Linked DNA regions of Homo sapiens. The protein of the gene in region 1 purifies or fractionates together with the protein of each later gene. This does not show direct contact. Each region holds a gene or a part of one and is shown in the gene's direction. Other genes may lie near its edges.

Evidence for each region.
Region 2: the proteins of CABYR (region 1) and DNAJB12 purify together in Homo sapiens (affinity purification with mass spectrometry; one large-scale study listed by BioGRID and IntAct). This does not show direct contact.

Annotation. Positions count from the first base shown.
Region 1 is NC_000018.10:24,136,919-24,142,933, forward strand, and holds the start of CABYR (calcium-binding tyrosine phosphorylation-regulated protein), read left to right. Parts: upstream 1-2,143; 5' UTR 2,144-2,200; exon of another isoform or gene 2,201-2,437; intron 2,438-2,565; exon of another isoform or gene 2,566-2,601; intron 2,602-6,015. UniProt on the Homo sapiens protein: May function as a regulator of both motility- and head-associated functions such as capacitation and the acrosome reaction. Isoform 1 binds calcium in vitro. Isoform 2 and isoform 6 probably bind calcium. Isoform 3 and isoform 5 do not bind calcium in vitro.
Region 2 is NC_000010.11:72,336,986-72,341,521, reverse strand, and holds part of DNAJB12 (dnaJ homolog subfamily B member 12), read left to right. Parts: intron 1-351; coding exon 352-537; intron 538-653; coding exon 654-733; intron 734-3,210; coding exon 3,211-3,320; intron 3,321-4,536. UniProt on the Homo sapiens protein: Acts as a co-chaperone with HSPA8/Hsc70; required to promote protein folding and trafficking, prevent aggregation of client proteins, and promote unfolded proteins to endoplasmic reticulum-associated degradation (ERAD) pathway.

The DNA of each region.
Region 1 (6,015 bases):
CATCCAAGGCCTTGGACCTAATGAGCAAAAGCACAGAGGTGATAAGCGACATGTGTGTTCAAGACTCTGGAGGGTCAAGTGGGAATCACATGGTGAGACATGAAATACGAGAGGTATGCAGAGGCCACACCCACAACCATGGACTTCCATAGGGTAAGGATTTGGGGTGTGGGAGAGGGGCAGTGGAAGGTACATTTGCGTTTTAAATCATTGGTGACCAAAAAATAACATACTGGTGATTGAAAGGGAGATGAACACAAGCCAAGATTGTGAAACCACATCAAATCATTAAGAGTTCAAGAAATCAAAGCAGCGATGGGCAGTGGTTTGAAAATTCTTGGTTAGATGTTTACATTGTAACAATTTGCATTTCAGAATGACTCAGCCAAACAGTCACTGAAGAAATGGAGAGTAAAATCTTGTTTTTTGAGTTACAGGTATTTCTGCATAATACCTTACACCTAATAGATGTTTGAGATGACCCACCAAGGTTACGTTAAAAAAACCATAAATGTCTCCAATTCCAAAAGACACCATAGATGAGGTACTTAGGATTTTCAGTAGCTCAGTTCATTATGTCTCTGACACCTAAATGTGTTATAAACCAAGCTATCAGAAATCATGACAGCCTCATCTCACTTTTATTTACATTACCAAAGTGGTGCTGGAGGCAAGTGATGAAGGATGAAAAATATCTGCAGACCCACCAACATACTCAGTCTAAAAGCATTTCTCCCTTTTTTTTGTTTTGTTTTGTGAGACGGAGTCTCGCTAATTCTCCCTTTTTAAGTATGTAAACTTCCCGAGAAGAGGGAGCTTTCCTGGCACTCAGTAAAATAATTATTAAGTGGATTAATGAATGGCACCAGATAATGCTGACTGAGGCCTTAACATTGCTTTTATTGCAAAGTGCTCTGGAAGCCCTAATTTTTTCTGAATTAAAAAATAGGGTTTTGTTTTATTTTGGTTTGGTTTTTGTTTTGTTTTGTTTTGTTTTTGGTCAGATATCTGCCCTGGCGATGCTCTTTGGTTTAAAGTAGTTGCTTTTTAAACATTTGAAGATGGATCAAAATTAAGGCTGCTTGTACTCTGATAATCATGATTATGGTGTTATTTAGAGCCCAGCCCAAATACCTGAGCCTAAATGAGTGAAAGAGCAGAGAGTGGGCGTTTTTTTGTTTTTTTTGTTTTGTTTTTTGTTTTTTTGAGACGGAGTCTCGCTCAGTAGCCCAGGCTGGAGTGCAGTGGTGTGATCTGGGCTCACTGCAACCTCCGCCTCCCAGGTTCAAGCAATTCTCTGCCTCAACCTCCAGAGTAGCTGGGATTACAGGCACCCACCACCACGACCGGCTAATATTTTGTATTTTTAGTAGAGACAGGGTTTCACCATCTTGGCCAGGCTGGTCTTGAACTCCTGACCTCGTGATCCACCCGCCTCGGCCTCCGAAAGTGCTGGGATTACAGGCGTGAGCCACCGTGCCCGGCAGAGTGGGCGTTTTTAAATGAAGCAGTATTCCTTTAGTTTGGTAAAATTGAGCTGAAGTTACACACAGTAACACCTTGACTTGTTGCTGACGGTGTGCTTTGTGGGGATAGTTGGTGTCTGATCTCAACTGTGGAGAAACAGGAAGTTTCTGGATTCATGCTGAACTCCCATTCCACAGGCGAGTTTCACAAAAGAAAAAGTGCTCTGTTGCATACAATTATTCACTGTGTGTCTACAACGTGGCAGAAATTATTATTCCTAAAGGTGACCGAAGAGAGCTATAGTTTATGGGGCCAGGAGCAATGTGTGGAATGGCGAGGCAGTGACAAGACAGCACTGCCATAAATCTCTTACTTTCTTTCCAAACGAGCTCTAATTTTAAGCTCAACGACCAAAGACGGAGAGGCAGTCGCTTTGAGCTACTCCTGGCTATTTGTTGGGAAATCACCTAAATCCGTTCAGATTTAGCCAGAAAAGGGGAAATAAGTCTCCCTCGCCGGCCAAATCATGGCCTTTGTCGCTTTCGGCTCCCCATTGGCTGCGGCCGCTGTGGCCCCGCCTCCTTGAGTGGTGCGGAGCTTTGTGATGCGGAGCTTCGTGATGCACGCCCCGATGCCTGCGGGGCTATAAAAACGCTCGCAAGCGCCAAGTCTCCTCAGGAGCCGCCGGCAAGGGGGCAACGAGGAAGCTCTTAAGAGCGCGGCCGGAAAGCAGGTGGGGAGAATCTGGAGAAAAGGCGCACCCTGCGGCCTCGGAGACCATTATGTCTCAGGGAGTCTCTCGCAGTGGGAGAGGTCGTCGGGGCAGGCGGAGGGTCCTCAGAGTCGGGGGTGGGGGGCCTGTGGGGCGGCCCCGGCCCACACCGGGGAGTGCGGCGACCAGACGGCCAGCTGCCGAATCTGAGGCCTCGGTGGGTCCGTCGCCCGCCTCTCTTGGACAAGTCCAGGCGATGTGAGCACGCCCAGCCTCCTACATTTCACTCCCGTCTCTCCCAAACAGACCTAGCGCAAAACGAGCACTGACACAGCGGGGGCCCACATCCCGGAGGTTCTTTAGGGAGAGGTCGGGGAGTGCGGTTACCTATGGCTCCGAAGTCCCCGCTGGCATCCTGAAAGGCATCGTATTTCTCGCTTAAGGCGTTACCCTTGTGGTAGTGGGCGCATGGACGTTTACAGTTGGGCGGGGCAGGATTTAAATTCCGCCAGTGGTGGACCAGTATTGGTGATAGGAGAGATCTGGGAAGAATTATTAAGCTGTCGCTTTTAAATAACCCTAATAGTGTTTGTGACAATTTTACCCGTTGACTTTTCTCAGCTTGCTTAGGACAGTTCTTTGTGGGGAACTGAACTGTAGGACGTTTAGCGTCCCTGGCCCCACACGTTCCCAAAGTCGGGGTGAGAACTAGTGGGACGGGGGATCATGGAGTGCATGGCCGCTGTCCCCACCTTTGGTAGCACCAACTGCTAACTGCCTCCTGAAAGGTTGTTGGCGCCATCATGGTTTCTGGGAGCCACTTTCTTTTTTATTCTTTTTTTTTTTTTTTGAGACGGACTCTAGCTGTGTCACCCAGGCTGGAGTGCAGTGGCGCGATCTCGGCTGTCAGCTCCGCCTCCCGGATTCACGCCATTCTCCTGCCTCAGCCTCCCGAGTAGCTGGGACTACAGGCACCCGCCACCACGCCCGGCTGATTTTTTGTTTTAGTAGAGACGGGGTTTCACCGTGTTAGCCAGGATGGTCTCCATCTCCTGACCTCGCCTCGTGATCCGCCCGACTCGGCCTCCCAAAGTGCTGGGATTACAGGCGTGAGCCACCGCGCCCGGCCTCTGGGAGCCACTTTCAAAACGGTCTATCTACTCACTTTGGGTACTTAAAGAAAATTAGACATATGATATATATGAGTATGTATCAAATATATATATGTATCAAATAGTATGTATGTATCAAACATGTCATGCTGCCTATGCCCCTTAGCATTTAGCATGTGGGACTGCGGAATCCCCACTTCTGATTTTTTAAAAAATTCTTTTTTTGTGAGTACACAGTAGGTGTATATATTTATGGGGCACATGAGATGTTTTGATTCAGACATACAATGTTAATCACATTGGGAATGGGGCATCTATCCCCTCAAACATTTATCCTTTGTGTTACAAACAATCCAGTTATACTCTTTCTGTTATTTTAAAATGTACAATTATTGACTATAGACACCCTGTTGTGCTTTCAAGTAGTAGGTTTTATTCATTTTTTATACCCATTAACCAGCCCCACTTTCCCCCTCCCCCACCCAGGCCCCATTACCTTTCCCAGCTTCTGGTAACCATCCTTCTCTATGTCCGTGGGTTCAATTGTTTCAATTTTTAGCTCTCACAAATAAGAGACCATGCAATGTTTTCCTTTCTGTGCCTCACTTACTTCATTTAACATAATAATCTCCAGTTCCATCCACTTTGTTGCAAATGACAGGATCTCATTCTTTTTTAATGGCTGAATAGTACTCCATTGTATGTATGTACCACATTTTCTTTATCCATTCATCTGTTGATAGACGCTTAGGTTGCTTCCAAATCTTAGCTATTGTCAACAGTGCTGGAACAAACATGGGAGTGCAGATATCTCTTCTGTATACTGATTTCCATTTGGGTATATACCCAGCAGTGGGATTGCTGGATCACTTCTGGTTTTTTAAAGATGGTTTAATTCAGTAAATCTGTTGAATGATATCGTAAAAGGAAGTTTTCATTAAGGGATTCAATTATACTTAATTATATACTGAAAGGATTTGCTTTGGCCAGTACAGATTCATTTTGTCCTGACCTTTGGGAAGATGAGATGTGTTTTTAAGTATTGAACATTTTGCTATGAGATATTCGTTACTTTATAATAGAAGCTGTGCCCTTCTATAATTGTTGTAACTGAACTATGCCACTTAACCCCGTGAAACTCATTATTTACTGTAGGGATGTTGTTGAGGACATGGTTCATTATATCACACTATTTGCTTTATAAGGACTTGGGGGAGAAATTTCTCCTGGGTTTCAGTATCCAGAATAGCTGTGGTTCTCCCATACAACTGATGTGTTTTTCACCTCAAGAAACCTGAATCATTTAACCACCTATCTCCTATTTTGTGATGGCTGCTTGGTAGCTTAGGGGCCGATTTGATGCCCATCTTTATCAAAGTGAAGGAGCTATGGCATGCATTGGAGTGCTAACTTTACCTGTAGCTTCACCTTGTTTTTCCTATCTTAGTTTTCCTAGGGATTTTCTTAAATATTTAATTTTGTTCTTTAGAAGCCTTAGGTGATTTTTTAGGAGTCAGAATACATACACCCTGACACAGTTTCAGGTGGCAGCCTCTGCAACTCTGAGAATTACAGGTTGGTCTGTGCAGTATCTCTGATACCACTTAAAAGGCAGAAAGGCAGAAGGGGAAACATAAGGGAAAATTTGGGAAGAGGGTAAGGGAGATATGAGAAACGAAAGGTACAAATGACAGTGGGTGGTATAATAATACCACAAATAAATTATACTCACACTGATTAATGTTAAAAACAAAGTTATTCCTGCAGGTACAAAGCAGGCTGAAAAAACCCCAAAATTTAAAGCTAAAAAATGCACACTTAAACATGAGCAATGGTCGGGCACGGTGGCTCATGCCTGTAATCCCAACACTTTGGGAGCCTGTGGGTGGATCACAAGGTCAGGAGTTCAAGACCAGCCTGGCCAAGATGGTGAAACCCTGTCTCTACTAAAAATACAAAAATTAGCCGGGCGTGGTGGCCAGTACCTGTAATCCCAGCTACTCGGGAGGCTGAGGCAGAGAATTGCTTGAACCCAGGAAGGGGAGGTTGCAGTTAGCTGAGATCACGCCACTGCACTCCAGCCTGGGTGGCAGAGCGAGACTCCATCTCAAAAAAAAAAGCAGCATGTCTGAGAATATATTTAGAAAAATAAGGAAAAACATTTTCTTATAGAAAAAAACTTATCTTGTAACTGTTTGATGAATATATGTACAGAAGGGCCAGTGCCTGTGTGGTTTGGAAGGACTTGTTTAGAAACAGATACATGAAATGTTAACTGCACAAAATATTCACTGAATTTTACAGAGGCAGGTCTTGTTTTTTGTTCTTTGTTTTTAATGTCCTCAGGGTCTTGGCAGGGCTTTTCCTATGGATTTCTATCATGGTACTAGATTGCTCATCTGCACATAGTAGGCTATTGTTAGTAGGGTTGTGTGTTTTTTTTTTTTAAACTACCATCAAGAATTAGCCCATTTTACTAAAATGAATACCTACATATTAGAACTAAAGCTGATAATTTTAATAGGAGATAGTTTATTCTTGGAAACTATAGTTAACTCATAAGGACTATTTTAGTCACTTTGGGAGGCCGAGGCGGGCAGATCATGAGGTCAGGAGATCGAGACCATCCTGGCTAACACGGTGAAACCCTGGCTCTACTAAAAAATACAAAAAATTAGCGGGGTGTGGTGCCATGTGCCTGTAGTCCCAGCTACTCAGGACGCT
Region 2 (4,536 bases), on another chromosome or scaffold:
TCAGCTTGGGTGACAGAGTGAGGCCCTGCCTCAAAAAATAAAATAAACAAACAAAAAGAAGTAAATGAGGCCACACTCCTAGGAGGCCTGGCACATTGACAAAGCTTGACCATTGTCTTGAGGAGAACAAGGAGCCTGTGTTACCCTCCACCCAGCCAGGCTGCCCAGATCCACTGAGGGGTCTTCCTGCATGCCCCCTCCTTACACTGGCCAAGCTTCCTGCCCACCCCAAGGACGTCTGCTTCCTAAAGCACTGCTTGAGTACCTGAGAAAAGTGAGCACTCGGCTGCCATGGGAGCCTCCCCCCGCACCCCAGGATCCTCAGGCCTGACCTTTCCTCCTCCTCTCCAGCCATTGGCACAGCATATGCGGTACTCAGCAACCCGGAGAAGAGGAAGCAGTATGACCAGTTCGGCGATGACAAGAGCCAGGCGGCCCGGCACGGCCATGGGCATGGGGATTTCCACCGTGGCTTTGAGGCCGACATCTCCCCTGAAGACCTCTTCAACATGTTCTTTGGCGGCGGCTTCCCTTCTAGTAAGTTCCCCACCCTCCCCACAGCCAGGTATCCCTGGGGTGATGGTGGGAATGGCATGCCAGCCTCTCCCTTTCCCAACAGACCTGGCTCCTGACTCAGCCCCTCTGACCCCCAGGTAACGTCCACGTCTACAGCAACGGCCGCATGCGCTATACCTACCAGCAAAGGCAGGACCGCAGGGACAACCAGGGTGATGTGAGTGAGGAGGGCGCCAGGGACAGCGCGGGAAGGGCACCAAATCCACCCCAGGGAGGGGGCTTGGAGGAGGGTGTTCCCTCCCACACTGTCCATTCTGGGACCAGCAGAGTCCCCATAACTCTCAGCCAAGGAGCCCTCTGGGCCTCCCTTGCCATTCTGCTGAGTGACACCAGAGGGCGCCACACGAGGGAGCCATGCTCCACATTGCCGGCGGGAGCGCGGCTTTGCTGGCCTGGCTGGGGAGTGGAACCAGAAACCCCACCCACAGCCAGGTTTGAGTGTGAGGCTCCCATGCAGACCGCTCGCTGGTAAGGCCAAAGTGACATCCTCTAAGCAATGGAAAGTTACACTTTGTGAGAGAATTTTATTTTATTTTTCATTTTTTTCATGGGTCTCAGCTATTTTCTCTCAACTTTGTGAGAGAAATTTCTTTTTTTTTAATTGAGATGGAGTCTTGCTCTCTCGCCCAGGCTGAGTGCAGTGGCGCGATCTCGGCTCACTGCAACCTCCGCCTCCCGGGTTCAAGCCATTCTCCTGCCTCAGCCTCCCGAGTAACTGGGATTACGGGTGCGTGCCACCACCCCCGGCTAATTTTGTATTTTTAGTAGAGATGGGGTTTCACCATGTTGGCCAGGCTGGCCTTGAACTCCTGACCTCTGGTGATTCACCCGCCTCAGCCTCCCAAAGTGCTGGGATTATGGGCGTGAGCCACTGCGCTCTGCCACTGAGAGAATTTTAAAGGATGACAACATAGGTGCCGACTCTTCTTGCTAAAAAGCCAAAAGATACTTTTAAAAAGATATTTACAAAAATTTGGGAGGCCAAGGTGGGTAGATCACCTGAGGTCAGGAGTTTGAGAGCAGTCTGGCCAACATGGTGAAACCCCGTCTCTACTAAACATACAAAAATTAGCTGGGCGTAGTGGCAGGCGCCTTTAATCCCTACTCGGGAAGCTGAGGCATGAGAATCACTTGAACCCAGGAGGCAGAGGTTGTGTTGAGCCGAGATCGTGCCACTGCACTCCATCCTAGGCAACAGAGCAAGACTCCGTCTCAAAAAAAAAAAAAAGTATAAAAATTATAACTAGACAGTGCTTCAAACACATTTTGTATGCCACAGATCAAAGAACAGCTAGCTGGCTAAAATTAAAATATTGTGGACAATTGCAAAACATTTTAAATTCTGGCCAGGCGGAAGGGGTTTCCTTTTGCTCTGACAATATTTATTCAATTTTTTTTTTTTTTAATTTTTTGAGATGGAGTCTCGCTCTGTTGCCCATGCCGGAGTGCAGTGGCACAATCTTGGCTCACTGCAACCTCTGCCTCCCAGGTTCAAGTGATTCTCCTGTCTCAGGCTCCTACGTAGCTGGGAGTACAGGCGCCCGCCACCACACCCAGCTAATTTTTGTATTTTTAGTAGAGACGGGGTTTCACCATGTTGGCCAGGCTGGTCTCGAACTCCTGACCTCGTGATCTGCCTGCCCCTTCCTCCCAAAGTGCTGGGATTACAGGCGTGAGCCACCATGCCGGCCTTTTTTTTTTTTTTTTGAGACAGGGTCTCGTTCTGTCACCCTGGCTAGAGTGCAGGAGCCTCCCCTCCCAGGCAAAGCTCCCACCTCAGGCTCCCCAGTAGCTGGGACCACAGGCCCACACCACCACACCCAGCTAATTTTTTGTATTTTTTGTAGAGATAGGGTCTTACTTTGCTGTTTGAGCACAGGCTGGTCTCAAACTCTTGGGCTCAAGTGGTCCTCCTGCCTCAGCCTCCCACAGTGCTGGGATTACAGGCATGAGCCATTGCCCCTGATCAAAATTTTTTTATTTTGTATCTAACAACAGAAGAGTTTAACATCACAGATTATCACACAGTGAATATATTTGTTAATTTTTATTTCTAATTCTTCTTTTTTTGTTTGTTTGCTTTTTCTGCACCCTAGAACCAGTGCTATTTCTAATTTTTATTTTGTTTTAATTATTATTTTTTGTAGAGATGGGGGTGTATGTTGGCCAGACTGGTCTTGAACTCCTGGCCTCACGTGTTCCTCTCATGTTGGTCTCCCAAAGTGTTGGGATTACAGGCATGAGCCGCCACACTGGCCATAATGTTTAAATTGGTAATATATTTGTGTGGTTCACATCTCAAAAACTTGTATATACTGCATGTCTCCTTCCAGCCCTGCCTTCCATTCTCCTGGAGGAAGCAACTTTTGCTGATTTTTTTTTTTTTTTGGCATTCTGTCAAAAGTAAATGCAGACACCTCACTTCCTCCTGTATTTCACACCAGTTGCTGCTTTGTTTTTATCTGGGAAAGCTGGCAGGTGAAGGAGCGTCTGTGTTTTGGAGCCTCGTGGAGGGAACGGCAGAGTGGTGTCATGTCTCCCCAGGCTCCACTATTCTAGGGGAGCTAGTGGTGATTATGGCTGACACCACACCCCACCCAGGTCCAGCAGAGTGACATTGGCTCTTCCCTCCAGGGCGGGCTAGGGGTGTTTGTGCAGCTGATGCCTATCCTCATCCTGATTCTCGTGTCAGCTCTCAGCCAGCTCATGGTCTCCAGTCCACCCTACAGTCTGAGTCCAAGACCGTGAGTACATGGGTGAGGCCGGGCCATGGGCAGACAAGGGGCTTTAAATTCTCAGCCCCATCAGGGGCCTTCTTTCCCATCCTGATCCAGCCAGTGTGCGATCATAATGCAGAAACCTGGCTTCGAATCAAGAAAATATACTTTCTCTATTCAACTAGGACTCTTAAGCTTTTTAGGATTATGGTCCCCTAAGAAATTGCAGCGAGAGCTACAGAACTTTTCCCTAAAACTATGCACACATGTGCACACACACATACACACACACGATACACATGTACACACACACACAATACATGCACACACATAATACACATGCACACATACACGCACACATATACACACAGAGTTTTGCATATAATTTCGGCGGCTTTGTGACTCTTCCCTGCCCATCTCCCCTGCCAACCCTGACGAAGAACCTCTGCTCCTCGGCTCTGGTTGGGCTTCCTGAGGCTGTGGAAAGAACAGGGCACTAGAGTCAGACAGAGCAAGCATGGCTTAGAATCCCAGCTTCTCCACTAAGAAGCTGTGTGACCCTAAACAAGTTATATAACCTTGGTTTCCTCATCTATAAAATGGGAATTATAACATCCACCTGCTGTGGAAATTAATGAGTAATGCATATAAAATGTCTGGCCCACTAGAAATGCTCAACAATATTAGTTTAATGAATGCTTAGTCTCGACTGCCAGGAGTGAACTTGAGGACATTTCATGAGCCGTTAGGGGGTCAGCTCCCCTCACTGATGTCCAGCACCTGGCCCAGGGTCAGCTACACAGTGGGTGCACATCTTCAGTGGGGTGGGTCCCCCTCTCCCAAAAGGTGGCCACCTCTGGCTGGGAGCTGGCAGGACCCTTCTCAGCCAGCAGGGGGCAGAGTCGGTCCACTGGACCCTGGCCGCCGGCTCAGGCTCCCTGTGGCCAGATGCCAGCCCTTTTCCCTGCAACTGGAGAGATGTGAGGAGCAGAGGACTAGGGCAGGGACTGTTGTCCCCAGAGCACTGGTCCTGTCTGGGTGTCAAGGCTCTTCCCACAGCTGACAGAGCCTGTGATTGGAGCTGGGAGGATAAGGCTCCCTGGAGCCCTTCCTGTCATTTTGTTCCTAAGCCTCTTAACCCTACACTGGGAACTCCTAGATAGGCAGGCAAGCACTCAGCAACAATTGGCTTAGGGGATGAATGGGGAGATGGAGGCACAGAGGCAGAGCCCAGATTCCCTCT